4 separate regions of the Homo sapiens genome follow, and regions 1, 2 and 4 are each linked to region 3. The links come from fine-mapping of genetic effects on gene expression. A gene starts in region 3. Each other region holds a variant in brackets. All regions are shown on one strand. Distances are from middle to middle.

Region 1 (7,472 bases), 65 kb after region 3:
GCTCACACACACAGACACACACCATTGGACTTAGAACTGCTCCCTGAGAAGCCTTGAGGTGTGCAGGAGGGGTGGGGGAGATGAACCAGAGATTTCCCTCTTCAGCCAGAAACTCTGGCCTGCCCCTGCCAGCCCCCTCCTGTGCCCTCTCCCACCCTGGCCAGGGCATTGAGCTTCCCTTCTCCCTTTCCTTCAGCATGTCCTCCCACCATGGACTGGAATTCCGAAGCACTGGTCTGTGGGTAGAATGAAAGAGCCGGCTCCCAGCCAGGATGCAGGGAGGCGGGGGTGGTTTCTCCACACCCCTCAGTCCAGCCTGGCCTAGAGGGTCCCTGAGCCCAGCTGTCAGCCCACCTCCCCCATACCAACCCTGTGCCTCATGACAGCCCTGGGGTTCTGTGGGGAGGCAGAGCCACACTGCACAGAGGTCACCAAAGAGAAGGAGGAGGAGGAAGACAAGAAAGGAGCTGACAGGAGCCAGGGTTGGGGCGGGGGCTGGGCAGGGGGAAATCGCTTAACCCCGAAGCCGCCACTAGTCTTTGGAGCCCCTGCATTGACGGGGGCCAGCTGGAGCTGGCTGAGGACAAGGGGCCCAAGTGTGGGAATCCAGGGAGGAGGCCTCCCCGGGCTTCCTGGATCAGCTGGGAAGAGAGACCCCAGAGCCTTCTTCTCCAGCCCGCCCTCCTGCCGCCATCCCTCCCTAGAGTGTGGAGACAGGCCCCGGCTCCCTGGCTCTGTTGCCAGTGGGGGAATTTTTCCAGCATTGACCTCACCCCGACCCCACCCCAGGCTGGCTGGCTGATGTTCCTGCACTCCTAGCAGCGTGGCCATGGCAGCACAGGGCAGGCAGGGGATTCAGAAACCCAACCCTTGACTCTGGAAGAGTCAGGTTTTCCCAAGGATACCTCCTTCCACCTGTGCCCACTTACCAAGGCACCTCCTTGACTAGTATTTAGAAGTGACCCCAGGGATAAAGTGACTCCCATTACAGAAACAGCCACTGCTCCATCCCACTAACTTCACCTGCTCATCAGTAAAGGTGCCCACGGGTCAGACTGCCACCTGTCATCACCTCACTCTTGGTCCTAGGCATCAAGCCTTCCCTTCTGGGCCCCCAGTGTCCCCCATGCCATCCCAGGACCCCACACACACTCCAGGCCCATAATTGAATATAAAGGCCCAGAAGCTAGTGCAAACAGTGGCATTAATCACCAGCAACCTGGCAGCCTCCTGCCATAGATCTTTTCCACGCGTAGAATAGCTCATGTTAATCACTGCCGCTGATTTATTGTCTTCTCCGCCTTGTACATAAATTATTCACTGTGGCTGGGCTGCGAAGGAATCCTGTAATGAGGCCTTCCATCCTCCCATCTCCAAGGTGAATCCTCAGACCTCCGGGTCCACCTAGTTGTGTTCACTGGTGGGTCAAGGCATGGAGCCACAGGCATGGGATTGAGAGGATGATAGGGAGTGGGGACCCCCATGCAAGAATATCTGTCCCCCCAGGAGCATATATAGGACCTCTTCAGCTCCAGGAAACAGGGCTGCGGCCTCGCCTCTCCAGCTCTGGACAGGAGAGACAGGGCAGAATGGGGCGGAGGAGGCTGTTGGGTGGCCCCAGGGCTTCCTAAGGCTCCGGGAGAGTAAAGCCTTCCAGCCTTTACCTGGAAGTTCCTGCTCACCACCTGAGAGACTCTCCCGCCAATCAAGGCCAACTCTTGGGAGTTCCCCATCACCGGAAGCAGGATGTGGGCGTGTCCACGGGGGCAGAAGACCTGCCTCTCCCAGCTCCCTGTCCTACCCTGGGGTCTGTGCTGCTCTCTGGCCACACCTCTGAAATGGCCTCAGCCTCAGGAAAAGGTGGTGGCAGTAGTTATGGCAATGGCCACCAGATGGCAGCCCTGATACCCAGGACAGTAGCTCAGGGAGGTGGGAGGCTGCATTTGGGTAAGGAAATGCCTTTGGGAAGGTGGGAATCCGCCAGCGGAGGGTGATGGGGAGTGGGTGGAGAGGGGGTCTTGCTGACAGGGAGAGCTCTTAGCCTCAGGGGACCAAAGTACAGGACCCACTTCACACATCAAACCACTCATGGTGACATCCTCAAATGGGATGGTCTCAGGAGAGGAAATTGGGGCCCAGGTGTATGTGGGCAAGTGGGACCCCAGAGGGTGTGGGTGCTGCCAGATGGACTTCCCTGGCCCTGGCCCAACACCCCTGCAGCCTGACTTTCAGGCTGTCCTTCCCAGGCTCTGATCCATTGCATCCCAACCCCTCTCTCTTGGCTGGGGCACTCTCGGAGGCAGCCAAGACAGGAGCTACTGTGTACTGTGGTCAGCTGGGGGCCAGCAAGCCCCGCCCTCAGGATCTGTTTCACTGCACACATGCAGCACTGTGAGTTGCTTAGACCCAGTCCATCAAGAACACCTGTCCCCGCACAGGCCCACTGTCTCCTCCCACTCCTGTATGTAGAGTGGAGAGCTGCTCAGAGATACAAATGGGTCCTAAGATTCAGGAGACTTGTGGCTGCAACACTGGGCTTGCCAGAGTGCCCCTCCAGCCCTTCACCCCTCCACAACCCCCTCCCCACACACCTTACATCACCTACTGAGGCAGGGCGGAGCCTGCACTGGGATGGTGTAGAGGATGCAGAGTATTTGCCTTGTTACCCAGCCAGTGAGCTGCTTTCCAGCAAAGATGCGGGCTCCGGTCCTTTAAATACCTTGAGCCTAGAGGGCAAAGCTGGCAGAACAAGGCTCTGAAGGCCTCCTTTTGCCCCAGCTGCCTAGATGGGAGTCCTAGGAAAACATCTGGAACTCTGTGTC[T/A]CCTTGGCAGTTCTTGCCTAGGTGTCCTTGCTGTACATCCCACCGCTAAGCTCTCTGGAGATATCCGCTGGGATTCTGGAGTGCCCCTCCCAGACCCCAACAGGCCCTCTGGGTTCTGATGGGAACTCCCAACCCCAGGCAGGGCCCTATCTCCTGAAGGCAAGGTCAAGACATTCCCATCAATGAAGACCAGTGTTTCCCCAAGTGCAAGTCCTGTGCCTACTTCAGACCTACTGAGCTGGAAACTGTGGGGAAGAGGTCCAGATAACTGAATTGTTACCAAGCTTCCTAAAGCCTGAGAACCTCTGTACGAGACACTTCCTTAGAGCCAGGCTCATGCCCTCGTTAGATCAGCTTCCTGAGGGCAGCCCCAGACCAGGATGGGTGAGTTGTGAGGTTTTTCTAGTTGGCCTCCGAGTATTGACTTCCCTGCCACCACCGCCCTGGAAGTGGGCACACCTTTGGCCTCCTCACTGTCCTCCTGCCTGGTCCCCTTCCCTTCCCGCCAGCCCTCTGGCCCTTCCCAGCCAGCTTGCCTGGCTTCCTGGACCTGCTGTCTTCATGTCTGTCTTCACATCTGTTCCAAGGCTGCCCCAGCCCCGCTTGTTTATCCTTCAGGGGGTCCAAGTGGGTGTTTCAACTTCAATTATGCTCTGACTACAGCCACCACAGATACCAAAACAAACGTCCTGGGCGTCAGAGGTGGTGGAGGCTCAGACAGGCTGGTGCCAGGGGGCCTGATAAAGGGGGGTCTGCTTGGGCTTGGAGGTGATGAGAGCTGCTCCTAGTGATAGGGCCCTGGGGAGCAGGGGCTCGTGGGTAACTGGCCTCCTCAGGTAGGCCCAGGCCACAGAGGGGACAGTGTCTTGGTCTTAGTACCTCTCTCTCTGTCTCCCAGCTTCTCTCCAGTCTCATGTAACAGAAGCCTTTTTTTTTTTTTTCAGTGGGGACGTGACTTGTAAAAGCCTTCCTTCTTCCCAGCTGCTGGCTAAGTCTGGCCTCACCTCCAGAGGACAAAGATCTTGACTCCTCAACCCAGGCCGGCCTATTGAGATCTTTTTAAATCCCCTCTCAGACCTTGTGGTCAGTGTCTGAGGATGGTAGCAGAAGTCAGGGATCCTGGACCCAGCTCTGTTGGATTGTCCCTGTGACTTGGAGTGTGGTCTTTGCACAAGCTGTGCTTTGGTTTCCCCTCTCTAGGTCAATTAGCAGAACACATTTCCCAGTCTGATTGCCCACAAGGGAGAAAAATTCAAACCTTCCAGGCTCCCTGGAGTCCCTGGAGAATACAACGAGGTGTCTCAGGGAGCAATGGGAAGCAGGACGTGGTGCCTGCTAATGAGTGGGCCCTGATTTCCGTCTGGAGCATCAGAGGATGGAATGCCAGGCATCCATGACTAGAGAGAGGCCCCAGCTCCCATTGATCTCTGTGGCAGGAACCAGGAGACCCAGCAGAGGCCATGCTCAGCAGCCCCTCCAGCTGCGCTTCTCCTTAGTGGGAAGGAGCCCTCTTACTCACTGCACCCTCTCTGAATTCTCCCCCAGTACCTGCTTTTGCCCCTACCCTTGCCTTCTGCTTTTCCCAAATGGCCACCTCAGCTTATCTGCCCATTGGCTGATCTCTGCAATGATCACATCTGGGAACACCTTTAATAACAATGATAACAGGGCCAGGCACGATGGCTCACACCTATAACCCCAGCACTTTGGGAAGCCGAGGCGGGTGGATCACTTGAGTCCAGGAATTCGAGACCAGCTTGGTCAACATGGTGAAACCCCATCTCTATTAAAAATACAAACATTAGCCAGGCATGGTGGCAGGCACCTGTAATCCCAGCTACTCGGGAGGCTGAAGCGGGAGAATCGCTTGAACCCGAGAGGCAGAGGTTGCAGTGAGCTGAGATGGTGCCACTGCATTCTAGCCTGAGTGACAGAGCAAGACTCCATCTCAAAAAATAAAATAAAATAAAAATAATGACAATAGGGCCAGGGGCGGTGACTCACACCTGTAATCCCAGCACTTCAGGAGGCTGAGTGGGGAGGATCACTTGAGCCCAGGCGGTTGAAGCTACAGTGAGCTATGACTGTGCCATGGCACTCCAGCCTGGAAATCAGAATGAGACCTTGTCTCTAATTATATATATATATATATATATATATATATATATATATATATATATATATATATATATATATATATATATAATGATAATAGCAAGGAAAACAAAAAACAGCTCCTATTTATCGAACACTTCCCATGTGATGTGCCAGATGCTTTTGCGATTTGATCTTTCTGTCCTACAAGGCAGACGGATATAACAGCCCCACTTTATAGATGAGGGAGCTGAGAGGTTAAGTAAATGTTCCAAAGCTGCACTAGCTCCACTAGCAAGTGGCAGAACTGGATTCAAACCCAATTAGTTCTGACTTCTGAGCCCAAGGTTTTTGCTCCAGGCTTCGGATGTGCTGTAGAGAGCGGGGTTTACTTTGTGTTGGCTCCATCAGCCCCTTGAAAGCTCAGGGTCATGGCTTCTGTAGGGGGCTCTCTCTCTTTAGTACTCAGGGTTGAAGAGACCCTTGGGCCACTCAGGGGGCCCCAGAGTCCTGCTGGAGACCCAGGGAAGCTGTCTCAGTCCCAAATGAACCTGGTCATGTGTCAGCTCCCTGTCCACACGGCTGAGGGCAAACTTTCTCAGAGCTCAGCTCTGGCTCTGCTGCAGGATGTGAGTTGGGGGGTTCTGGTTCTCTGAGTTCTTGAGGAGGGTCTGGATGAGGGTGGGGTTTCTATTCTGATCTCTGTTCTGGTTCCTCTTACTCATTCAACCCTGGCTGCTGCCCAAACACAGGCAGCCTCTGCCCTGGGGCTGGAGCCACAATGTGGCAGGTGGAGGGATGGGAGGTGGACTATTGGAGCCAGACAGCTGCTTCCTATCCCTGCCATGCACATGCACACACACAGTGAGGAAGGGGCAGGGCACGTGAGCTCTGGAAGGAGGGAGGGCCACCAGGGGCTCATTAGGGTGAGTATGGGCACATTTGTGTCTTTGTGAGTGTGCACGCTGGAGATTGGGAGTGTGCTCGTCTGTGGCTGTGTGTGGGTGTGTGCCTGTGAGGTGGGGTCCAGGCTGAGTATGAGAGTGTAAACATGTGGGTCTTTGAAATAATGAGTATGACAGAGCAGTGCACTAGTGTGACCATGTGGGGTGTGACTGCTTACAAGTGTATGATTGTGTGAGCGCACAAACACGCATGGGAAAGACAGTTGCTGTCTCTTAGAGGAAAAATCCCAGAACTCCAACGGCCAACGTCTGCTCTGCTGTTGACCAGCTCTGTGGCTTTGAGCACATGACTTCTCTGAGTCTACATGTCGCTACCTGCAAATGGGGAGGAAACTGTCTCACAGGGTAATCATGAGGACGAGGTGCAGGTGTGGGTGGAGCACTTTGTCATCTGTCAAATGTAGGTCCCTGGGAAGGTCAATAAGCAATCTCCATCCTCTGCCTCTCTCCCCCACTTGCACCCCCACAACATGCTCAGGCCCCAGCCAAGTGCCAAGCTGGGGTGGGTGGTGTCCCAGAGCTGCAGGCTACATGGCCAGAGGTCCAGGCTCAGGAGGACTGGTTAGGGATGGTGAGAGTGAGCAGGTGTGGTGCCATACCTGTCTACTCCAGCTTCACATGTTTGACCCAAGGCTGCCCTGCCCCACCGGCACCAGCCCATCAGCACTCATTATTCTCCTCTGGATCTGAGGGGATTCTCCTCTATCTCACCCCAGCCCAGCATGCTGTGGCTTCTGCTGCCTCCTCCCTCTGGGGAGGTGAAGGCCCCCCCAGTAGGAGGCTCTCACTTCAGGTTCCCCTTCTGACCTTCTGAAGGCCATTCCCCACTAAGATCCCAGGGTCTTCAGCCCTGTTTCACTTCCATTCCCAGCCTCCCCTGAGCTTCCTCAAATGATTCTGGGGCACCTAGTCCATGCACCTACATTTGGAAATCATCTACTTAGCACAGTGGTTCTCAACCGTGGCTGCACATCAGACAGGAATCACCCAGGGAAGACTTGAAAGATCCTGATGCTGAGGCTGCCCCCAGACCAGAATTTCTGGGTTGGTACTCAGGCATTATTACAGGTTTAGGCACGGAATGGTGGGTCATGCCTGTAATCCCAACACTTTGGGAGGCCAAGGCAGGAGGACTACTTGAGGCCAGGAGTTCAAGACCAGCCTGGGCAACATGGCGAGACCGCCTCTCTACCTAAAAAAGAAAAAAAGAAAAAAAGAAAAAAGAAAAAAAAATTGTTGGGCATGGTGGTGCACACCAGCAGTCCTAGCTACTTGGGAGGCTGAGGCAGGAGATTACTTGAGCCCAAGAGTTTGAGGCTACCGTTAGCTATAATCACGCCACTGCACTCCAGATAGTCTCTAAAAAAGCAAATAAAATGACAAAATAAAATAAATATAGGTTTAAAGCTCTCCCAGGTGATTCTAATGTGCAGCCAAGCTTGAGAACCACTGCTGATGTTTCCCAAGCATCCTTGCTGAGAAGAATCACTTGGGACGCTTCAAGTATTGAAGTGTATTCAGGTATTGAAATGTATTGTGTTAAATACACAGCTTCCCAGGCTCCCTCCCCTGGAAATTGTCATTGGGTGAG
Region 2 (7,472 bases), 130 kb after region 3:
GCGATCCTCCCGCCTCAGCCTCCTGAGTAGCTGGGTCTACAGGCACACACCACCACACCCAGCTAATTAAAAAAATTTTTTTTGTAGAGACAGGATCTTGCAATGTTGCCCAGGCTGGTTTTGAATTCCTGGCCTCAAGTGATCCTTCTGCCTCAGCCTCTCAAAGTGGGAAGGATTACAGGTGTGAGCCACCACACCTGGCCTCTTCATGGAGGTTTTTTTGTTTTGTTTTTTTTTGTGTTTTTTTGTTGAGGTGGAGTCTCACTCTGTCCCCCAGGCTGGAGTGTAGTGGTGCGATCATGGCTCACTGCAAGTTCCACCTCCCGAGTTCACGCCATTCTCCTGCCTCAGCCTCCCGAGTAGCTAGGGCTACAGGCGCCCGCCACCACGCCCGGCTAATTCATCATGGAGTTTTATGAGTGCTCTTTTTTTTTTCCTGTTTGCCATTGAAATATGAATGCTTATTTACTTGTCTTCTTCTCCCACTAAACTTCAAGCTTCTGGAGGCCACCCGCCGAGTTATAACCAGCTTTGTCCCAGCGTCTACCTCAGGGCAAAGTCAGAGTGGTTCTTAATCAAGGATTTTTGTGGTGGCTCACGCCTGTAATCTCATCACTTCAGGAGGCTGAGGTGGGAGGATCACTTGAGCTCAGGAGTTCGAGACCAGCCTGGGCCATGTAGCGAGATCCCATCTCTACAAAAAAAATTTTTTTAAATAGCCAAGCATGGTGGCACATGCCTGTAGTCCCAACTACTTGGGAGGCTGAGGTGGGAGGATCACTTGAGCTCAGGAGGTCAAGGCTGCAATGAGCTGTGACTACACCACTGCACTCCAGCCTGGGTGACAGAGTAAGATCCTGTCTCTCAAATAATAATAAATAAATAAATAGTTGTTACTGGGCTCCTTCTATCATCCACAGAGATCAAGGTCATCTTGGGGGGTTAGAAATGTAGGGACATAGCCCTCCTCACATTATTTGGTCATCAGGACACCAGGAGACAAGACTTGGAAAAAACCTGAAGTCTGAGATTCTCCAAAGCTGACTGACATTAAGGGAGATCCTCTGAGCTAAAATGAGCCAAGACTCTCTCCACTGGGACCTGTTGGATGAGGAAAGGAATGTTGACAAGTAAAGTGAGGGACAAGGATAATAATGACCCCAAGCCCACCAGCCTGGCCTTGGCATTTCAGGGGCAGGCAGTGAGAATTACTGAACACTAGTTTTACCTGGAAAACAAGGTCACATTAAAAAAATTATATAGAGAGAAATTTTTTGTTTTCCAACTGCTCCCTGCAGAGCAAGGCTACCCTATAGGCAGTGTGCCCAGAGTTGCCACACGGTCATATTTGGGCCAAAACAGGTAAGACACCTCTACGGTAGATGGGGTAGGGAAGCTCCTTCCTCTTGAGACAGTCAGGCTGGGGCTGGGGAAGATGGGGGTGGTGGTGGGTGTGGCTAGCTGGGCTGAGTTGATGGAATTCTGGAAAGGAGGATAGATAGAACCTCCACTATTGCTTGGAATGTGCAGGAAATACCGTGAATTGGTCCACTCAGCATTCATCCAACCTTCTTCTGGTATGCATTCCTGTACTGCAGGGGCTAGAAAGCTAAAAATTACATTCCCCAGACTTCCTTGCAGCTAGAGTGCCAGATGTGACTTTTAGGTTGCACTCATAAGACATATTTATGCAAGGCTTAGATTCAGGGCTCAGTTAACTGGAGAGAGGAGTACAGCACGAAGCATCATTTAATACATGGTAACATACCCCTTCCTGTCTAGCTACATGGTCTCTGCTGCCTTCACTGAAACCCTCACTGATACATGGGGTAGCTCCTTAGCCACCTCCTCCTCCTTTCATGGGGTATTTTCCAGGTTTGTCTGCAGTGGCTTCTTTTTGCTGCTCTTGAGTGTGGAAGTTCCCTCCTCTATGGGGAGAGCTCTGGGAAGCCTCAATTTGGTTTTTGTCTGGCTCAGCCACCCTCACGACTCCCACATCTGTGTTCACCTTCATTCCTGCCATGTTCCATCCAAGCTGTGGACATCTGGTCACAGAGACTTCCTTGACTGAGGGATGCCCTGTCCTTGCAAGTCTGGGTCCACGTGGGGAGTTGTGACGGAAGTACTGTATTTTTGCTAAGTTCTTTTTTTTGGTACAGATGGGGTCTTGCTACATTGCCCAGGCTGCTCTTCAACACCTGGCCTCAAGGGATCCTCTTACCTTGGCCTCCCAAAGTGATGGGATTACAGGCATGAGCCACCACACTCAGTCCTATTTTTGCTAAGTTCTGAGAGTCAGTATGGTGGGTGGAAGTCAGGCCGACTTCACTCAGCTGGCCTGGGTCCACTCCTAACTCTTCTGCCTAGTGACTGTCTGGCCTTGGACAAGTGACTTGCCTTTCTGTGCCTCAGTTTCCTCATCAGTAAAATAGTGACCGTAAATAATAATAACATAATGATAGAATTATATAAATATGTAATAATAATAATAAAACGGTGCAGATTGTTGTAAAAGTTGGTATTGCATGTAGGTTCTTGCTATCAGGGTAGCCACAGACTTCGATGGGTCTGGTGAGGGAATGTCTCAGGATTTTCCCCCGTTTCTGTTCCTGGGGTCTGACCGGAGGATCCCCAGGCCTCCCAAGTAGTGAATTATCCTCCTTACCCCCTCATTTCTACACTCTCAGATTTTCCTTGTCTGGAACATTTTAAGCAAACTGATGCTTTGACAAATACTTCCTGAATGCCTACTACGTGCCAGGCATTGTACTGAGTACCAAGGATGCAATTCAAATTAATAAAATCAAGCTTTTGTCCACCTGCCAGCCACCATATTACACGAAGATGCTGGAAGGGTTTCATGGATTTGGACGGTATGATGGTGTAACCGAAAACAGTTATATGACATGAATAAAACTCATTTTGGGGGATCCCTGGGGAGATACCTTAAAGAGATGGGAAGTCATCCTCCAGAGTGACCCAAACTGACATACGACAGGTCTGTATGTCCACCCATGGGGCATGTTATGTCTCACCTACAGAGGGGCAGTAGATAGAGAAAGCAACAGTGGCTTAAAATGCAAACCCCAAACCAAAAGTTGTAAGGGAAGCTGCGCTGCTTTGCAGGTGCTGATTTGCTATCTAGCAGCTTTTCAAGGGAACTTCTATGTGTGGAGCTCCAGGGTGATTGACACCAGGATTAGGGTTCTGGTGAAGGCCACTAGTGATGAATAAGATTTGGTCTTCCAAGAATTCGGGAAAGGAACACCCTTCCATTATCTCCTGCTGCATAGCAAATCACTCTAAAAGTTAGCAGCTTAAAACAACAAACATTTATTTTCTCACAGTGTCTGTGAGTCAGGAATCTTGGGGCCGCCTAGCTGGGTGTCTCTGCCTCCAGATCTCTCAAGGATATGATCAAGGTTTCAACTGGGACTGCAGTTTCATCTAAGGCTTGACTAAGGAAGCATCTACTTCCAAGTTCATTTACATGGTTGCTAGCAGGATTCAGTTTCTCAGTTTCTCACTGGCCGTGAGCTGGTGGCCTCACCCAGTTCCTTGCCATGTGAATCTCCCAATAGGGCAGCTCACAACATGGCAAATGCTTCAGAGCATGTACTCAAGAGAGGCTGAGAAAACAAGCAAGATAGAAGTCCTGTCTTTAAGTCACCTAATCTCCAAAGTCACATCTTATCACTTCTGCCATTCATTCTCAGCAAGTCTCTGGGTACAGCCCACGCTCGAGTGGAGGAGATTTCACAAGGGCTTGGGAATTCCACAGCAACCAGGGGTCACGGGGGGTCATCTCAGAGACTGCCTACCACACCCCTCACCTATGGGAGCCCCAGCAGCAGGGGCAACTCCTTCCTTTCCCCATCTCCACCCCCACTTTCTCCCCTAGGACTCTGCCCAGGCAAGCCACAGCCTGGCTGCCTTTCCCGAGTGAGGATCCAGGACAGCCTCAGAAGCACATTAGTCTCAGAAGACAGAGACCCAGAACTCAGAAGCCCCGCCTCATGGAATGCATAGATGTACTGGGTCTGGCCATTGTCCTTAGCTAACAGACATGCTAGGTATGGAGGAGAACCTGGGGCCAGACTAGAGCCTGGGGACATTGTCTGTCTTAGTGAGGAAGGAGACAGGACTCAACTCTGGAGGCAGGGCTTGGACACTGGACCAAATTGAGGACTAGCTAAAACAGGGTCAGGGCAGAAGCACCTTTCCATAAGACACACCCACCAGTGTTGCCATGGCAACACCCAGAAGTTACCACCTCTTTCTGTAGCAACCACCCAGTGACCCAGAAGTTAACATTCTTTTTCTAGAAATTTCTGCAGAACTCACCACTTAATTTGCATATAGTTAAAAGCGGGGACAAATATGACTGCAGAGCTGCCTCTGAGCTGCCACTCTGGGCACACTGCCTATGGGGTAGCCATGGTCTGCAAGGGGCAGTACCTCTCCTGCTGCTGTAC[G/A]TTGCCATCTCAATAACAGTTGCTGTCTAATGCTATCTAACACTACTGGCTCACCCTTGAATTCTTTGCTCTGCAAAGCCAAGAACCCTCCTAGGCTAAGCCCCAAGTTTGGGGTTCACATGCCTTGCATCACTAGGGCTGGTCAGTGGGACAAGGCCACACCAGACCATAAATCCAACTCACGGTCTTTCCCAAATGGGCAGAGGCTGCAGGGTTGGCCCTCCTGAAGGGCTGGCCCTGCCCCACTTGGCTGAGTTTAAGACCCCCTTGCCTTGGTGCTGGTAAGAGCATCACTGTCTTACTTGCAAAGAGGAGGGTGTCTGGGAACTTCCAGAGGCCTGTGGAGCTGGAAAATACTAACAGAATGGTCTTGGTAATTTTCTCTGGAGGTAGCCTCATCACATTTTGGTGGACCCATTTCTCCATCTGTATTCCTCCCTTCATTTTTGTTTTTGTTTTTCAGATTCTCATTTCTCTGACTCCTCTTGATTTTACACTCTAAAGCTGAGGGCACAGGGTACCCCCCAAATTGGGCCTCCACTCTCTAGTCAGGGATGGTGGGATTTGGGTGGACTTTTCACCTCTGCTTTCAAGATCTTAGGTAAAGGGGGGGTCTTGAGGCCAGCAGAGGCAGGCAACCTGGGCCTTCCCACACTGCACCCACAGAGATCCACAGAATGCACCCCCCCATGCTGCACCTGTTGCTAGCATCTCTGAACGGGCCTTCCAGAAGCTACCCAAGAGGACGCTGACAGGACAGAAGATGGCTGCACAGAGCAAGAGACGGGGAGGGCACAGGGCAGTATGAAGAACAGCGTGGTCTATGTGAGTCCCAGCACCCAAGGTCAGAGCCCTTCCCTGGGCCCACTCTCCATCTCTGCCAAGTGCACACTCCTGCAGGGAGGGGCTGTGCTATTCATCTCTGTGTCCTCAGAGCCTGCATCTACGAATGGGCAAAAAAATGAGCAAACCAACAAGGTTTAGCACATACGAGGCTTTGGTCCAGATATACATGCATGTGTGTCAAAGGACCTGTGTAAAAACATATTCATTTGGAGCATTCGTTGTAAAGATTAGAAACAACTTAATATTTATAAAGATATTTGCCAAGATTGGAAACAATTTAAATGTCTATGAGTAGAGGACTGGGAAAATTCATGAAGATAAATCCATCAGTGTGATCGTGTGCAGCCATGAAAAGGATGAGTCCACACTGATGTGAACAAACTCTGAGATACTGTTGATGTGCTGGCAATGTGGCTCATGCCTGTGTTGATGCTTCCAACACTTTGGGAGGCTGAGGCAGGAGGATAGCTTGAGCCCAGGAGTTCAAGACCAGCCTGGGCAACTTGGTAAACCACTGTCTCTACAAAAAATACAAAAACTAAATGGGCATGGTGGTGCACACCTGTAATCCCAGCTACTCAGGAGGTTGAGGTGGGAGGATCACCTGAGCCCGGGAGTTGTCGAGGCTGAAGTGAGCTGTGATTGTGCCTCTGCACTCCTGCCTGGGCAACAGAGTGAGGCTCTGTCTCGAAAAAAAAAAAAAAAAAAAAAAAAGAATGAGATGCAGAACAGGGTGTGTTGGTATGTTGGTGGGGGGAGAATATGTATGTCTGTTTGTATAGAATATCTCTGCAGGGACACCCAAGAAAATGACGGCATTTTCTGGGAGGAAAATAGGGTGCCTAAGAGAGGGGGTGGAAGGAAGGCTTACTCATTACTGTTTTGAATGGCTTGAATTTTGAATTGCATGAATATATTATTTATTCAAAAAAGCTTAAGAGCACACATTTGGAACTGCAGACTTGGACTGCCATCCCAGCCCTGCCACATCCATCTTCCTCTGTAACGATGACTGCTGGACGTCTTCCCAGCGCCCTGAGAGGATGCAGAAGTTGCTTCTGTAGCACTTGGGGAGCTGGAGTTTTGTTGGTACTGCTGCCATCTCCACCAGATGATGAATGGGGAGAAACCTCTGGCTGGGAGAGGCCAAGGTCACTCATTAAAACCTCACAGAAGGTAACACACTGAGAGACAGACAGTGTGACCCCTGACCCCACTGACGTTGGCCCCAAGTCAGCCAGCAGGTTCACACACCCTCTCAGGGTTCACTTGCTGGGTGATGTTATCCAATGGACCCTCTTTCCTGACTTCAGTGACCACACCCAAGACCTGCAGGGACTCCAGACAGTTATGTCATAAAATTCACCACACAGGGCACAGAATTCCCCCATGTTTCCACTCTCTCTATATCTTACCAGTAAGGGAAGGGCAGAAATATGAAGGAATATAACCTGTAGTCATTTGGTATTTTCCAAGGGAAACTGCTTGTGATTGTGAGGTTAGTGATCTTTGCAGACATTCTCTCTAAAGTGAGTGTAGCCTTGGGCAATGCATGCTCTGGGCTATTCATTTAGGTGCCCCTGTAACCAAGCTCTGCATGCAGGAATGCTCTCTCATTCATCATTTATTCATTTGACAAACATTCATTCAGCCCCTTCTCTCTGCTAGGTATGTAAAGGAGAGCCAAGCTGCCTGAAGAAACGAGGGTCCATAGGTGAAGACAATTAAATAAACTCATCAGACTAAAGTGCAACACGTGCTGGAGAGACAGCCAACCTTTGTAGAAGTGCAAAGCACTTGACCCAGGGGCTGGGGTCAGCGGGACGTCTGGGAGGAAGTAAGCTAGCTTCAGCTAGCACCTGACAGTGGAGAGTGGAAGGCAAGCGCCGGTGAAAAGGAGCTGTTGTGAAGGTGGGATGTAAATGGCTTAGCCAGGGCCCAACACATTGTGTGTGCTCCATCGGTTCCCAGTGTTCAGAGGAAGGAATTCCCCCAGATGCCTGAGTTCAGGGCTGCTATCACCCTGAATGGCCACAAGGGGGAGCTCGTGCCCTGTAATTGTGTGTTTCAGCGCCTGTGCCGTGTGCCGCAAGGTACCAGTTGTTTCCACTAAAGATCGGTTACTTGCATCTTACAAAGTTGTTAGGAAGC
Region 3 (7,065 bases):
CTAACTCCTCTGGGGACTTCTGCTCCCTCACCAGAATGACCGTGGTGACCCTCAGCAGTGCCCTGTGCTCACCAGAGGGTGAAGCATAGACTGGTGTATGACAGGGGTGAGCGTGCCAGGGCACTGGTGGAGGAAAGCCTGCTCCCTGAGCAACATGCCCCACCCTGCTCCAGTGGCCTAGGGAGGGGAAGAGAGATGCCCTGCTGGGTCAGAGGGGGAGGAGCAGGGCCTGAACAGTCCAGTCTGGGATCCAGCCAGGGGAGCTCTGCTGGCTAAGAAAGAGGAGAGGAGCTGGAGATATTTATCTGGTCCTGCTCACAGAAAGCTCAGACTCAGGGGGCCTGGCTCCGCACCTGGCATTCTAGGTCCTGTCTTGCTCATCAGCTGTTAGTCACCTCACATCTGTCACTACAGCCAGGCTGGCTCCTAAGTGCCCACCTACCATGCTCCATGCTTTTCACTTCCAGCCTTTGTTGGTGACAGCTCACCCCTGCCACCAGCTGTTCTTATTGCTCTGTCCTGCTACACTGTAGATTCCTGGAAGGTGAAGAGGGAGCCTGATTTCTCTCTAGGTCCCTTGTAACACCTCCCCAGGGCTGGTATAGAATTGTGCTCCATGAAGCGGCATTAAGCAACTACATAAGCTTAGGTCTCCCCTTCCCTGATGGAGCTCCCTCTCCACCCTCAACCCTCCTCTTCTGAACATTTGCTGTGCTGCCTTCATTCCCCTCCTTCAGCACGGAAGCCCTGAATTCTGTCTACCCGCTTGGGCACTGACTCCTCGCAGCCCAGCACAGAGCTTGTCACACAATGGACTGGTTGATGGAGGATGTCCTTCTTTATCCTGCCCCATCCCCCAGAAGTACACACAATGGATCTGGAGAAGGGCAGAGCCCATGGGAGAGAGGCCAGTTCAATCCCCTGCCTTGTCCACCAGGGGCTAGCATACCACACGCATGCCTGTCCCTGCTGCCATGGCCTTCTTTCCCTCCTCTGACCCTTCTACGACCCTGGACCCCTGCAGGATTGGCCTGGAGGAGAGGCCAAGGGCAGGTGAGGAAGAGTGTATGGGTTCCCAGGCGGCCTGCCACCTCCCTGTGACTCCCATCTCTTGAATTCCCCCAATCATACTGGCTCTGCCTCCTCCTGCTGAGTTCCCATTGTCCCCTACCCCCACCCTCCCCAACCCAGGCCAGTGGCTGGGTCCCGCCCCTACCTTCGATGGGGGAGTTGATGAGGATGACGCGTCCCATGGGCGATGAGGCTCGGATTCCGCGGGGGGGCCCGTTCAGCAGCCGTTGTTGCTTCCTTAGCAGGTATCGCGTTGCGGTGGAGCCTGAGTCGCTGCCTAGGTGGCCTCGGGAGGAGAGGGAGCTCAGAGAGCCGGAGCTCAGGTCTCCTAGGCCCAGTGGGTCGAAGCCCACTGCGAAACCCTGCGCCATGGCGGCTGGGCTAGGGCGGCACCCTACAGGTCCAGAAGGAATCTGCTAGCTCTGGAGAGGCCAGCCCTGCGTGCTTCGAGCTCCATGAGCCTCTGTGCGGGGCTGGGGTCTCAGTAACGTGAAGGCCCTCGCTTGCGATGCCTCTCAGAAGTGTGAGCTCCAGGCCTGGGCAGGGAGAGCAGGGATGAGGGAGGGGTGTAAATGTTTCCCCTGCTGCCCCCTAAAACTTCCACCCCTCCCCCTGGTTTAAGCATCCTGCCCTCCCATGCCTTAGGCCCCCCTCCTGTCTCACCCTAGGCCAGAGAACTGCCCCGTCCAGGCACCATCTTGGACTCTCGCTGACTTTATACAAGGCAGGTGGGAACCTTTCACCCCTCATTCCTGCTCGGGGCTGAGTCATCTACTCCCGTCCCCAGTCCTCAGTAGAGGTTGAGAGTGGAGTTGGGATTACTGCGGGCCCTGGGGCTTAGAGAGGTGTGAGACAAAAGAGAGGTCAGGACAGCTCATGGCATCACCTCTCTCATGCATATGCGGGCATGGAGGTGGCCCGGGGTGGGGCGGGGGCTGCGTGGGGCGGGCTGGGCCTCGAGGATAGGGCTTCAGGACCTTAGACAGCTGAGGCCCAGGAAGACCCCCAGACACCCGCGGGCTCCAGGCTGCGGCTCCGGGTCTAAAGAGGCTGCATGAACCTCTCCCAAGCTTTGGGGAGGATCTGCTGGAGAGGGGTCCCACGACATCCCGCGCAAAACCCAGGGCCAGTTCCCTCAGAGAAGCTCTGGGACCTAGAATGAAGCACCCCAACATCAACTCGGCCCTCCAGGCCCCCCACCCCTTTGTGCCTGGTCGGCCTCACCTGGTCGCTGGTGTGGCGCCGCCAGCCTTGTCAAACCACCCGCAGGCGAGAGCTACTGCCGCAGCCGGCAAACCCCACCCACGCTGCGCGGAGGCTGCGGGAATTGGGCTGGCCTGCACCGCCCCGGGCTCCCATTGGCTGGTAGGGCCGCCAGTCATTCTATTCCGGCACCTCCCTTAGGCGCCAGGGACAGCCGAGCGTTACCTGGTCCCGGGCAGCGGAGTTCTTTACCCACCCCAGTTCTGGTTCTGACGCCCTAGCTCATTCCGCAAATTTAGGGCTTGGGTCTGGCTTGTTCCCCTCCGGCTCGAACCACCTCTTCTCTGAGCCGAGCCAGCTACCGGGGCTCCTGGAATTGCCACCCCTCCCTGGGCACCCTTGAGGCCTCCGTGGAGGGACGTCACGGGGCAGAGCGGGACGTGAGCCTGAGTTTGCTGCAGGCGTGCTCTGTGTGGTGGCTGGGTGAGTTGTGAGTATGTGCGTGGCGGAGGGGGTGCCTTCTTCACTTGCATCCTCCTCCTCTGTCAGAAGGCGTCTCTGGCTACCCAGTTCTGGAATGGTCGCAGGGTGGGGCAGCTGGTCCCAGGACCGGAAGAATCCTAAGAATCCTTCTGATGCACTTGCTCGGATGCAGACCGCGAGGTTCCTGGGGTCGTCTGCCCCTCCACATCTCAGGGGTGGGGCTACGGTCTGGGGTGCAGGGCTAGGGGTTGGGAGCGTAAGGAGACCAGGGACACAGTGGAGCTAGGGGTTACAGAGGGGGAGCAGGGAGAGGGCTGGGGACATAGAAGAGGCACAGGCACGACAGGAACGGGGCTGTGAAGTGATGCGAATGCCGCGCTGCTACAAGAGGAGCTTGTGGATACTGGGGTAGGAGCCCAGGGGGACAAGCAAGCCAAAGGCCATTGCCAAGGCAGCCATCAAGTAAACAAGCCAGGCGGTAACCCGAGTCCCTCCCGGCGCGCCAGCAGAGGACCGCCCCTCCACACCGCCCACCTGCGCCCGGGGCTTTCTCTCTGGGCACCTAGACCGCTTGCTGCAGGGCTGGGGGTCTGCTGAGGCCCGCCAGGGGACTGTAAACCAAGGGAGCAGCGCCCGCGGCTCCAGCCCCTCCTCCCTTTGGCTGGGGAGGGGGCCAGAACTGATCCCCGAGGTGGGATTGGCTCTGGGAAGCAGCTTAGGGCCTGGTCCAGGTGGCCCAGGCTGGGGGCATCGCCTCGAATGACACCCACCGCCCTCAGGTTCTGCCAATCCCCGTGCCCACCGGGTGGGCGCGGCCGGGAAGCTCCTGCCCCTCCCTGCTGGTCGGCGTCACGCGTGACGTCCCGCGTGATGGCTGGGAGGGCCCGGCGGCGACAGCGGAGGCAGAGAGGAAGGCGGTTCTGAGAGCTTCAGAGAGCGATGGAAAGCGTAAGTGCTCGCTCTCCCCGGCGGGCGGGGTTCTGGAATGGGGGTCAGAGAAGGAGGCCTGCCTTGAAACTGTCTGTCCTGGTGCAGTCAATGTCCTCGGCTCTGTGGAGGTCCAAGTCCACAGGGCACAAGGGAGGTTGGGGGGAGGAATGTCAGGGTGGGGCTGTGTGTAGTCACACATTCAAGTGTCTGCAGATGGGCACAGTGTGCGCCTGTAAAGGTGTTTGAAGGCCGGTGTATACAGGACACCTCCACTCTGTCTGTATGTCTGGGCAGGGTGTGCATGATAGTGTCTTTGTGTGTGGGTATGTGAGTGTGAGGGGAGGGCGTCTCTGCCTCTGCGGGAGGAAGTGTGGCTGGAGAGGATTAGTCATTCTGTAGGATTCTGCCCAACTCAGCCAGATGGCTGCACCAGGCTTTCCTCTCTGTGCTGGGTGGAGGGAGCAGCCACTGAATCCTGCTCTTATCCGGAGGCAAGTGGCCCAGAGAGAGGTGGATGAGTGTCTGTGCCAGCCCTGCCTGGCCAGGGACCAGGGAGAGCCTGGGGTCATTCAGTGTGAGTTGGAGAAAAATGGGTCTGTAGAGAGGACTTGTGCGTGCCCACATGCACACACATGGCTGACATCAGAGTCCCCTGATTGAGATCTGGAACAGATAAGCCCTGGGTGGCCAGTAAGGCCTTGCTCTCCTCCAATCAGGGACTGGAGTGTGGGATGTCTTGTGCCATTTTCCAAAACAGCCTTGGGGGTTTGTATCCAGGTCTCAGTGCAGCTGGGGCCTAAAGCTCACCTGAGCATGGGTGTGTAATATATATATTATATATTCTTGTGCATCTGTAGCACACGTGGCTGGGATGTTTGTTGCTGCTTATGTGTCAACCACATATATGTAAATCCTCACTCATGAAAATCTGTACCAGGATAGAGCACAAGGAGATCTGTTTTCCTGTTTCTGGTCTTCCCTTCCCCCTCCTCCAGTGGCTGCAGGTCCCTGGGCTGGGACATTGCCCAGGAAACAGCTCCTCCCCACACCCTTGCTTACCTACCTAGTTGAAGGGGTGGCCTGCCCCTCCACACCTGTGGGTATTTCTAGTAGGGTGGGACAAGAGACTGAGAAAAGAAATAAGACACAGAGACAAAGTATAGAGAAACAACAGTGGGCCCAGGGGACCGGCGTTCAGCATACCAAGGATCTGCACCGGCACCGGTCTCTGAGTTCCCTCAGTTTTTATTGATTATTATTTTCATTATTTCAGCAAAAAGGAATGTAGTAGTAGAGCAGGTTGATAATAAGGAGAAGGTCAGCAAAAAACATGTGAGCAAAAGAATCTATGTCATAATTAGGTTCAAGGGAAGGTACTATGCCTAGATGTGCATGTAAGCCAGATTTATGTTTCTCTCCACCCAAACATCTCAGCGGAGTAAAGAATAACAAGGCAGCATTACTGCAAACATATCTCACCTCCCACCATAGGGCGGTTTTTCTCCTATCTCAGAATTGAACAAATGTGCAATCGCGTTTTATATGGAGACATTCAGTTCCCAGGGGCAAGCAGGAGACAGTGGCCTTCCTCTATCTCAACTGCAAGAGGCTTTCCTCTTTTACTAATCCACCTCAGCACAGACCCTTTATGGGTGTCAAGCTGGGGGACGGTCAGGTCTTTCTCATCCCACGAGGCCATATTTCAGACTATGCATGGGAAGAAACCTTGGACGATACCCCGCTTTCAAGGGCAGAAGTCCCTGTGGCTTTCCGCAGTTAATTGTGCCCCTGGTTTATTGAGACTAGAGAATGGCAATGACTTTTACCAAGTATACTGCTTGTAAACATTTTGTTAACAAGGCACGTCCTGCACATCCCTAGATCCCTTAAACCTTGATTTTATACAACACATGTTTTTGTGAGCTCCAGATTGGGTCAAAGTGCTGGGGCAAAGTGGCTGGGGCAAAGCTACAAATTAACAACATCTCAGCAAAGCAATTGTTTAAAGTACAGGTCTTTTTCAAAATGGAGTCTCTTATGTCTTTCCTTTCTACATAGACACAGTAACAGTCTGATCTCTCTTTCTTTTCCCTACATCTAGTCACCTTGAGCTCTTGAAGGGACTGATGATAAGCTCAGGGGCCAGGGCAGGGGCACCAAAGATTTCCCCTAGCTGGAGCCCTTGGACCCTTGGACTCCCGCTCTGACCCTTATCTCTGTCCTGCAGAAAATGGGTGAATTGCCTTTAGACATCAACATCCAGGAACCTCGCTGGGACCAAAGTACTTTCCTGGGCAGAGCCCGGCACTTTTTCACTGTTACTGATCCTCGAAATCTGCTGCTGTCCGGGGCACAGCTGGAAGCTTCTCGGAACATCGTGCAGAACTACAGGTGACCACCCCTCAATCTGACCCTGTGTGCCAGGATCTCATTTTCTGTGATTAATATAATATGTTTTGTACCTGCCTCCTCAAGCTTGACAGTGACCCTGTCCCTCAATCCCCTCACTCTCTAGCCCCGTCTGTTGGCATCACAGAGCTTTAACCCAAAGGATTTTAGGGCATTTGGGTTGAGAAGATGGCATTGATATTTATGGGAGGGGCTGCTCTATGCATCACAAACCTCTACAGGGATCTATCCCATTGCGGGGTCACCCTCTGCAAGGATAGAGGTGCTCAAAGTGGAGTCCCAGGAAGATAGGAGGGAAATCCCCTTATCTTTGGGAGGAAAAACTCTTGCAATGCTTGCAGCCATTTTTGACCCACTGGAAACCACCATCATCCCTGACCCAGCATTTTGGCAGAAACAGAAGGGTACCCCTCTTTGTGTGGCTATAAGGGAAATAGAAATAGGAGCCTCCACTTCTGGGAAACTTTGGCCCTCTCCCAAAGATAAGGAGCTTCCTTATGCTGAGACTGGGGGCTGAAGTTCCTGGTTCTCTGTCCAGAGTTACCCTGAGCTGGGCAGGTGGGGCCTGTGAGGGCAGATCTGCCCCCTGGCATAGCCTGTCTGCTCCTTGCCAACTTCTGCAGGGCCGGCGTGGTGACCCCAGGGATCACCGAGGACCAGCTGTGGAGGGCCAAGTATGTGTATGACTCCGCCTTCCATCCGGACACAGGGGAGAAGGTGGTCCTGATTGGCCGCATGTCAGCCCAGGTGCCCATGAACATGACCATCACTGGCTGCATGCTCACATTCTACAGGCAGGTCTTGTCCCACGTCCCCTTCTTCAGTGCCCTAAGCTAGAGCATAGCTTGACTAGGTGCGCTTCTTGTCTGGGCCAACTGGGTGAGTGAAAGATTGTGTCAGAATCGCTTCCATTCCTCAGAATTCAGCCTCAGGAGGTCTCTCACCCCAGAGACAGTAGGTGTGTTTGTA
Region 4 (7,472 bases), 110 kb after region 3:
TCCAGCACAAACACAAGGTCATGGCCACACTGTGACACACTACACCACACACAACAGCCAACAGCTACAACAGCCTCACTTGGTCTGCCAGGCCCCCACCACACATCCCAGCCCAATCCAGGTACGCACAGACAGGTTTTCACATAAATGCAGCCCATTTCTCCAGAACCCATTTGAGGGGTGGGGGGGTGTTAATTTATGCACTTATAAGGTGTTTTCTGTGTAACCATTTTATAAAGTGCTTGTGTAATTTATGTGAAAAAAATAAATAAAAGCCTCCGGATCCGGAGTCAGGGCTGCCTGCTCCTTGCGGACCCTAGCGTCCTTCAGCTACTTGGGTTTGGTGTGTGAGCTGATGCTTCAGGGGCAGCCCTTGGTACCTGAACTTGAGAGACATGTTGCGGGGCAGGACCCTAAGGCTCTGGAGAGAGGAAAGGAAGAGGACAGATGGAGAGAAGGCAGAGTTGAGGAGAGCAGGGAGAGCCAGGCTCTCCTGGGATTACCAGTGCCTGAGAGGATGTGGATTTCTTTGGATGTGAGAGTCGTGTGTGTGTGTGTGTGTGTGTGTGTGTGTGTGGTGTGTTTGTGATAATGTGAGCAATCAGCAATGCGAGCAAATAGTGAATATTTATAATGGTATTTAAGTGTATAATTGTGTTTGCAATTCTTGCGTGTAAATGCTTGTTTCTGCTTAAGTTGCAAATCGAAACTATCATTGTATGCACGGGCTTGTAGTGGTGTGTGTGTAACCGTATGTGAATGTGACTGTTTCTTTTTGGGTAATTGTGTAATCAACCATTGTTTGTGATTATGTATGAATCGTGTTGATGTTTGGGAGAATATGTATTAGTTTCTCTTTGTAAATCTATTTTTCTGTGAAATGTGTGACTGCTTCTGAAGTGGATCATCTTGAATTTTATGGGTGTAATTGTGTGTGAGATGTAATTATGTGTGAGCTGTGCATTTTCCCTGTATTTACTTGTGTGTGACAGAATGTAATTGGGGGAGTAAAGGTAGTGGGGAGTGTGGATCACTGTGGGAGACCATCACTGCAAGTGGGTGGGTATGGTTCTGTATGAGTGTGTGTAATTGTGTGCTGATGGTGTATGTGTTGGTGGGAGTCTGTTGTGCGATACGCAGATACATTGTGGCGGGACCAACATCTGCTGAAGTTCTGGGGCTCTAGACGCTTACCCAGCAAGCTGCAGAGACTGGGGCACATTGAATCAGAAATTAAGGCCAGAATCCTCTCTGGTGCTGTAAGTGGGACCTACCAGTTCCCAGCACTAGCCTGGCCTAGGAGAGATCTAAAGAATTGACTTTCTGGGAACCTCCAGGAGCCCTCCAGACCACCCTTGCCAGACCTGCAGCCACAGTACACATGCACACAGGCATAACAGCCAGTCCCCAGCCTATTCGAATTATCCTAGACAAGACTGACTTGGGTCTGCTTTTCTGGAAGAAGCTGTGTGGTGGAGGGTCTACAGAACTCATCACCCTAGGGGTGAGTTGAAATGGAGGGGTAAGAGGCTTTTTCTCTGGGATGGGAGAGTGAGAGAACTTTTCAGCTGAAAGTGGAAGTTCGTGGTGTGGGGGTCACTGGAAGCTCTGCAGAAGTGTTTGCGGGATACTGAGGGTGGGGAGCCACCCTAACTGTCAGAACCACTGTCCCCCAACCCTGCCCCTGCCCGGCAGCCATGAGGGCTGTGACACAGGTCGTGAGCACAGCAACTTCCCACCCCAGCAAGCCCATGGGGAAGTTCGGCTGAGTGGAGGGTGGGCTTGGTCATCCACCCCCTCATCTGGGGTCCCCTGGGATATCCGCATAAGAGGGGGCTTCTGTCACTCACTTTGTGTAGACATGAAGAAAAGAGAAAAAGAGGGGAGGGTTCAGGGTCCGAAGACAGCAGCCAGCCTTTCCGCCCCATCCCCGCAGGCCCGCGGAGTGCTCAGGTTGGGCCCTGACGAGCTGTGTGGAGCGTAGTGAGCAGGTTCTGGCGGCAGCGCCGGGTCTGCTGCAGGTCTCCCGCATTCACCGGCTGTGGCACCCAGCGCCAGGCCGCGCAAAATCCAGAAATAGCCTCCAGCACCTCAGAAGTCGTCTCCCTCTACCTGGGCAGGTCTGCTGTCCCCTCTGCTCCCGCAGGACTGGAGCCACCGAGCTCGCGCCTTCTTCTCGGGGTGCGATTTCTCTCCTCTTTTGGACTCAAGATCAATGCTTCCCGGCCGGCGCAGATCACACAGCAGGACCCCAGGGGAGACTGTGGCCTTCTTCCCGCCTCCCAATTCCCCAAGACCGCCTCTAGAGGCTGCTGTGTCCGGAGAACTCCGAGCATTTTCTGGACACAGATTGCCTAACAGAGGAACAGGGGTTAGGTGGGGAGCGGCTGGCCGGCCCAAACACAGCAGCCCCAAGCTGGCTCCCAAGCCTGGGCTCTCCACCCCCGCTCCCATCCTCTCTTGAGCACAGTTAGGCCCAACACCCCTGTCCCCCAAAACACCTCCTACCCTCCCTCCCCCCCAGCCCCCATCTTCAGGAACATCACAGGGCTCACACTCACTAACCGCGGAGAGCACATGCAGGCCGGAGCCCTCAGCCCGGCAGCTCTCGGACCCTGCCCAGCTCGACGCGGACTCATGCAGAAGAGGACATTCCGCAGGTAGGTACAATCCCAGCGCTGGGGCCTGGGGCGTCCGGGGGGCGGCCTTTGAGCTTCCCGGATACCGCTCGCCTGCTCCCGGAGCTGTTCGGCCGCCGGCTGCCCGGGTCGTGCACTTTCAGTAGGGCCCCGCTGACTCTCCTGCCCTTGGGCTAGGCCTCCCGGGGATGCCAGACTCCTGGGGACGCTGGGACCCGCGGCGCGGCGGGACACGCAGGACTCCCGCCTCTCCGCCCGGAATTCGTTGAGACGGAATCTCAGCGGATCCCGCGTCCGCCGAGCGCCGCGGCCAGGGAGAAAGGCCGGTGTGGCGGCTGGACCCGCAAACTCCGTCCCAAGTGGGGCGGAGGCTGGAGGGGAGGGGGGCTGCGAGGGTCACAGTCAAGGCCAACTACTCACAACAGAAAGCTCGAAACTCTCCCTCTACCTCCCCTGCCGGAAATGACCCGTCTCTGTTCAAAAATAGAAAAAGAACGATCGGAATAATTGTTCGCAGAGGTGCCGGGAGAGAAGGGGAATTAACAAACCTGCCTGCGC[G/A]GAGAGGTCTGCTTCCTTCTTTGGCTTCAGAACCGACGGCAATCACCAAATTCCTGCGGCCAGCGAGCCCTGCCCCTCAGATCTGGCCCTCTGGTTGAGTGGGTGGCGGCCTGAGGGGCCCCAGGAACCCAGGCAGGGATGGGGTCCTAGAGGCCCTGTGCAGTGCGGTGGGTGGCACACAGAGAATCTGGCTCAACCTGTTAACTATAATAGCGGCTTTGTGTGGCCGCATCTGTGCTTGGGGGCTGTGTGGCACCTCCTGAGCACTGACTGCCCTGTCGTGGCTCCACTACCAGGCAGTTGTGGGGTTTGCCCTGGGCACAGGACTCAGATGGGTGCCCTGCTTGTGGGGCGAGTGACTCGCAGGTGGGCAAGGTAGGCTTCAGGTGCTTGAGACAACTAAGTAAGGACCTCTAGCCAGCTGAAGCAGCTGGGACTCAGCAGCCAGGCTGCAGGGCAACCGGGAGGCTGCGGCCTTGGGGCTGCCCTGAGGGCCCTTCAGCTCAGGTGCCAGAGGAGACCTCCTCCCTCATGCTTTACTCCTTCTGCTGCCCTCATGCCCACTTTCACACTTATGTGTCACTCCCACACAGCCCCCCAGTCCTGCTCCCTACCAGGGCCCCCAGACCCTCCAGATCAGCTCAGAGTTTGAAGTTCCACAGCCAGGCTGTTGCCAAGCAACTGGCAGGAGCTGCCACCACGTTCCCTGCGTGGCTCAAAAGGGCCCATCCAATGCCTTCTGCCCCCATTCAGCTCTGGCCTGGTTGGCCCAGGGAGGCCCCTCCCACCCCGGAACCCTCACCTGGATGTCTTATCCTGGAGAATCTGATAGGAACAGGCTGAGCAGAGGCTGGAGTCAGGTCAGGTTTTCCAAGGAGCTCAGAGCAGACTCCAAAGACTGTGCATGATAGGGGTGAGGGGTGGCAGGTTGGGGTGTGAGGAAGGGCTGGGTGAGTTCCAGGGAGTGATGGGGTACCTACATTTTGTTGAGGGGTGGGTACAATTCACATGCCCCCACTCACAGCCTGCATTGCTGGGTACAACCTCACATACCTCCTTCAACTATGCAACAATCAGGGTGTGCAGTGTTACACGAGGGGAGCTACAGGTGTGCTGTGCCAGGCACACACAGAGCCTGCACTGCTGGTGCAAGCTCACACCTGACCAGGCCACCTCCTGTAAGTGGTTACCCCTGGACACCCCTCCTCTCCTTCCCTCCTCCCCCAGCCCCTACAGAGGAGGATCTAACTCCATTCCCAGCTGGCCTGGGGGTGGGGGTTGTCTTAGGAGCTGGCTTCAGGTTCCAGCCCTGCAGCTCGGGTGGTAAGGGAACCCCATGTGCCTAAGGCTGAGCTTGGGGATAGCAGCGGCCACCTTAGATACTGGCTGAGGACCCTAGCAAGGCCCAGAAGGTCCAGCGGCCGCCACTGCCTGCCCAAAGCCTGGGGAAATCTGGCCTCCTTGTGTGCGAGAAGATTGTGAGGGGTGCGGGGGGCCCCCTGCCACTGTGTGCCTCCTTGGGGAAAGGCTTTGGTGGGAGCTGCTCCTGCCCCTCCTGTTTTATGCCCTACGGACCCAGAACCCACATTTCTTTGGTTGCTGCGAGAAGAGCCAAAAGACCCAAAAGCTGGAGGCCGCGGCCGTGATTCAGCAGCCACCCAGAAGTGGGAGCTGGACCTGGGACTTGGTCACAGAAACCCAGAACGAGTGAGTTCTGGGCGCCCTCTAGGGGCCGCGCGTAGCAAGGCACTTCGAGCCGAGGCTCTGGGAGCTTGTATTCTCCGTGGCACCCTCGGAAATGCAGGGGTGGCTGTTACTGACTAGGTTGGAAAATACGAATGATAATCACACTAGCGAGCAATGTTATGGAGCATATGCTGGTGCCAGGCACTGCACTATGCTTTAAGAGTACTAATTCATGCCTAGCAACTACCTTATGAGGTAGTGGTATTTTTATCCCTGCTTTATACATAACGAAAATTGAAGTTTAAAGAGACTAAGCAGGGGCCAGGCGCGGTGGCTCACGCCTGTAATCTCAGCAGTTTGGGAGGCAGAGGCGGGCGGATCACTTGAGGTCAGGAGTTCGTGATCAGCCTGGCCAACATGGTGAAACCCCGTTTCTACTAAAAATACAAAAATTAGCCGGAAGTGGCGGCGGGCGCCTGTAATCCCAGGTACTCCAGAGGCTGAGGCAGGAGAATCGCCTGAACCAGGGAGGCGGAGGTTGAGCAGCTTGCCTGAGAGCCCGCGGCTGGTAAACAGTGAGGCCAGCATTCCAACCATGAGGTCTAACTCTAGAGCCACGGTCTTTGAGAGGGATGGCCGAGTCCTGGAGTATCATGGAATTAGTGAGAATTGGAGATGAGACCCTACCAGACTCCTGTCAGATTTGGCTTTATGGAGGGAGCTCTTAGTCTAGAGGGGGGCTGGGTGTTTGTCCTCTAGAGCTCTGGGAAAATCGCCTTCAGTCCCATCCAGTCTACTGGAACCTTCCTCCCCGTGAGGCGCCTGGCTTCCAGGCCCCACTCTGCCAGGCCTCTGTGGCCGCCCCCTCTTCCCCCGCACTGACTGCAAGCGCACACTCTACGTCTTCCCAGCAGGGCTTGAAGCCTTGTGGGATTGGAAGGGGGTTCCGTGCACTTTCACCTCTTCCCCTCCCTTCTCTGGGTCAAGAAAATGGAAGGACTCAAACTGACAGAAAGTTAAAAATAGAAGCCAATGAATCACACTTTATTAGTCAAAGGAACAGAGAACCAGAAAGGAAAATCCTTCCTCTCCTTGTCCATCTGCTCTGTGGATTGGAGGATCGGGGAGTGAGCTGAGGTGGGTAGGAGGGTGAGACTTGAAGGTCAGGGAGTTACCAGAGGTTTTCTTGGTGACCTCTTAGTAAGATTCAATCAAACTATAAAAAGAAAGAGTATGGCAGGCCAGGCGTGGTGGCTCACACTTAGAGTCCCAGCACTTTGGGAGGCCAAGGTGGGAGGATCGCTTGAGCCCAGGAGTTCGAGAACAGCCTGGGCAACATGATGAGACCCCCCCAGCTATATATTTAGGCCGGGCATGGTGGCACACGGCTGTAGTCCTAGCTACTCCGAAGGCTGAGGTGGGAGGATTGCCTGAGCCTGGGAGGTCAAGGCTGCAATGAACTGTGATAATGACAGTACACTCCAGCCTGGGTGACAGAGTGAGACCTTGTCAGAAAGAAAGAAGAACGAAAGAAAAGAAAGAAAGAAGAAAGAAAGAAAGAAAGAAAGAAAGAAAGAAAGAAAGAAAGAAAGAAAAAAGAAAGAAAGAAAGAACCGAGCGGGTGAGCTTGGCCTTGCCTCCTTCCCTCACCTTCTACACGATACGGGAGGTGGGGGTAGGGGAACATCCCTGGAAGGCTCTTTTGTATACTATATAAGGTGTATTCATTTATATACAAATAGCCCCTGCCAGTGTCTTAAACTTTTGTGTGTGCAAAAATCATCCAAGGATCTTGTTAAAATGTGGATTCTCATTCATTAGATCTTGATGGGGCCTGATGAGATGAATCTTGATGAGATTGCACATTTAGAATAATCTTTTGGTAATGTTGACACTGCTTCAGGCATCAAGGTCTTAAACTACTTCCCCACATCTAAGATCTAATCCTAGGGTTTTAAAGTTGCCTGCCAAACATGACTTGTAATCTTGTTTTATTTGCTTAAGAGCATTTTTCCATTTTATTTAAAGAAATGAAAAATAGGGACACAAATAATATCCCCTTCTGATAGGCTGTTTTGGCTTTTCTTTTTCCCAGAGCATTGATAAGACATTTTAGAATGCACTGTCCACATGCCACAGGCCTCACCAATCCCAGTGTTTTATGTCCTGCTATTTTCCGTGTTCCTGGCACTGCTCCTCTGATGCCAGATCCCCTCTCCTTCTGCACCTGCCCTCTTCCAAAAACCCTCTTTCAGCCCCAAGCAGCTGTTGAAGTGTCTTTGAAGATCAGCCTAAATGTTAAGCCTGGCTTCTCTGCTGTCCAGCCTTGAGTAAGTTCATTAAGTTTTAGGATCTTGCAATTTCCTTGCCCATATTACAGGACCAACCTGTAATTAACCTGGATTAAGGGGATTAAGGAGATAACTCAGGTAAAAGCACTTGGCTCTTCACAGATGCTCCAGGAATGGCATAGAGCAGCCCAAGGTGTTGTGGCCTGGGTTTTCCACACTCAGGACTTCCTGGGGCCCTCAGGGTGAGTCCTACAAATCTCAGGGGCTCTACCCTCCACACCTCATTCCCAGACCCTCA

Direction of the effects. Alleles are on the strand shown, and positions count from the first base shown. SD is a standard deviation of normalised expression in the study named. Not every link is listed here.
In carriers of allele G in region 2, the expression in lung of the gene that starts at base 2,457 in region 3 tends to be higher than with A alone (small effect, 0.16 SD a copy in GTEx).

Evidence for each region. PIP is the estimated chance that this variant, and not a neighbour inherited with it, causes the effect. A credible set is the group of variants that fine-mapping cannot tell apart.
Region 1: its variant is the best candidate, but not a certain one, in a credible set for the expression of SFXN3 in nasal epithelium (TOPMed, PIP 0.51).
Region 2: its variant is the best candidate, but not a certain one, in a credible set for the expression of SFXN3 in lung (GTEx, PIP 0.64).
Region 4: its variant is the best candidate, but not a certain one, in a credible set for the expression of SFXN3 in sigmoid colon (GTEx, PIP 0.66).

What each region holds. Positions count from the first base shown.
Region 1 is chr10:101,093,904-101,101,375 of GRCh38, forward strand. All of the region lies in intron 2 of TLX1NB (TLX1 neighbor), which reads right to left. Among named protein-coding and RNA genes, the nearest start is that of TLX1NB, 34 kb to the right of the region's middle. RefSeq lists an enhancer at 1,617-1,736. The variant T/A (reference allele first, on the strand shown) is at 2,823.
Region 2 is chr10:101,154,568-101,162,039 of GRCh38, forward strand. No RefSeq gene overlaps it. Among named protein-coding and RNA genes, the nearest start is that of LINC01514, 18 kb to the right of the region's middle. The variant G/A (reference allele first, on the strand shown) is at 4,476.
Region 3 is chr10:101,028,778-101,035,842 of GRCh38, forward strand. SFXN3 (sideroflexin 3) reads left to right here and starts at 2,457. Exons shown (of 12, transcript NM_030971.6): 1 at 2,457-2,757; 2 at 3,537-3,705; 3 at 5,915-6,078; 4 at 6,720-6,890. The coding sequence starts at 5,918. PDZD7 (PDZ domain containing 7) reads right to left here and starts at 2,352. Exons shown (of 17, transcript NM_001195263.2): 1 at 2,296-2,352; 2 at 1,217-1,607. The coding sequence starts at 1,442. RefSeq lists an enhancer at 2,770-2,979.
Region 4 is chr10:101,137,501-101,144,972 of GRCh38, forward strand. It overlaps TLX1 (T cell leukemia homeobox 1), which reads left to right. Exons shown (of 3, transcript NM_005521.4): 3 at 1-289. It also overlaps a transcript of TLX1NB not described here. Among named protein-coding and RNA genes, the nearest start is that of TLX1, 9.9 kb to the left of the region's middle. RefSeq lists an enhancer at 4,982-5,786. The variant G/A (reference allele first, on the strand shown) is at 3,198.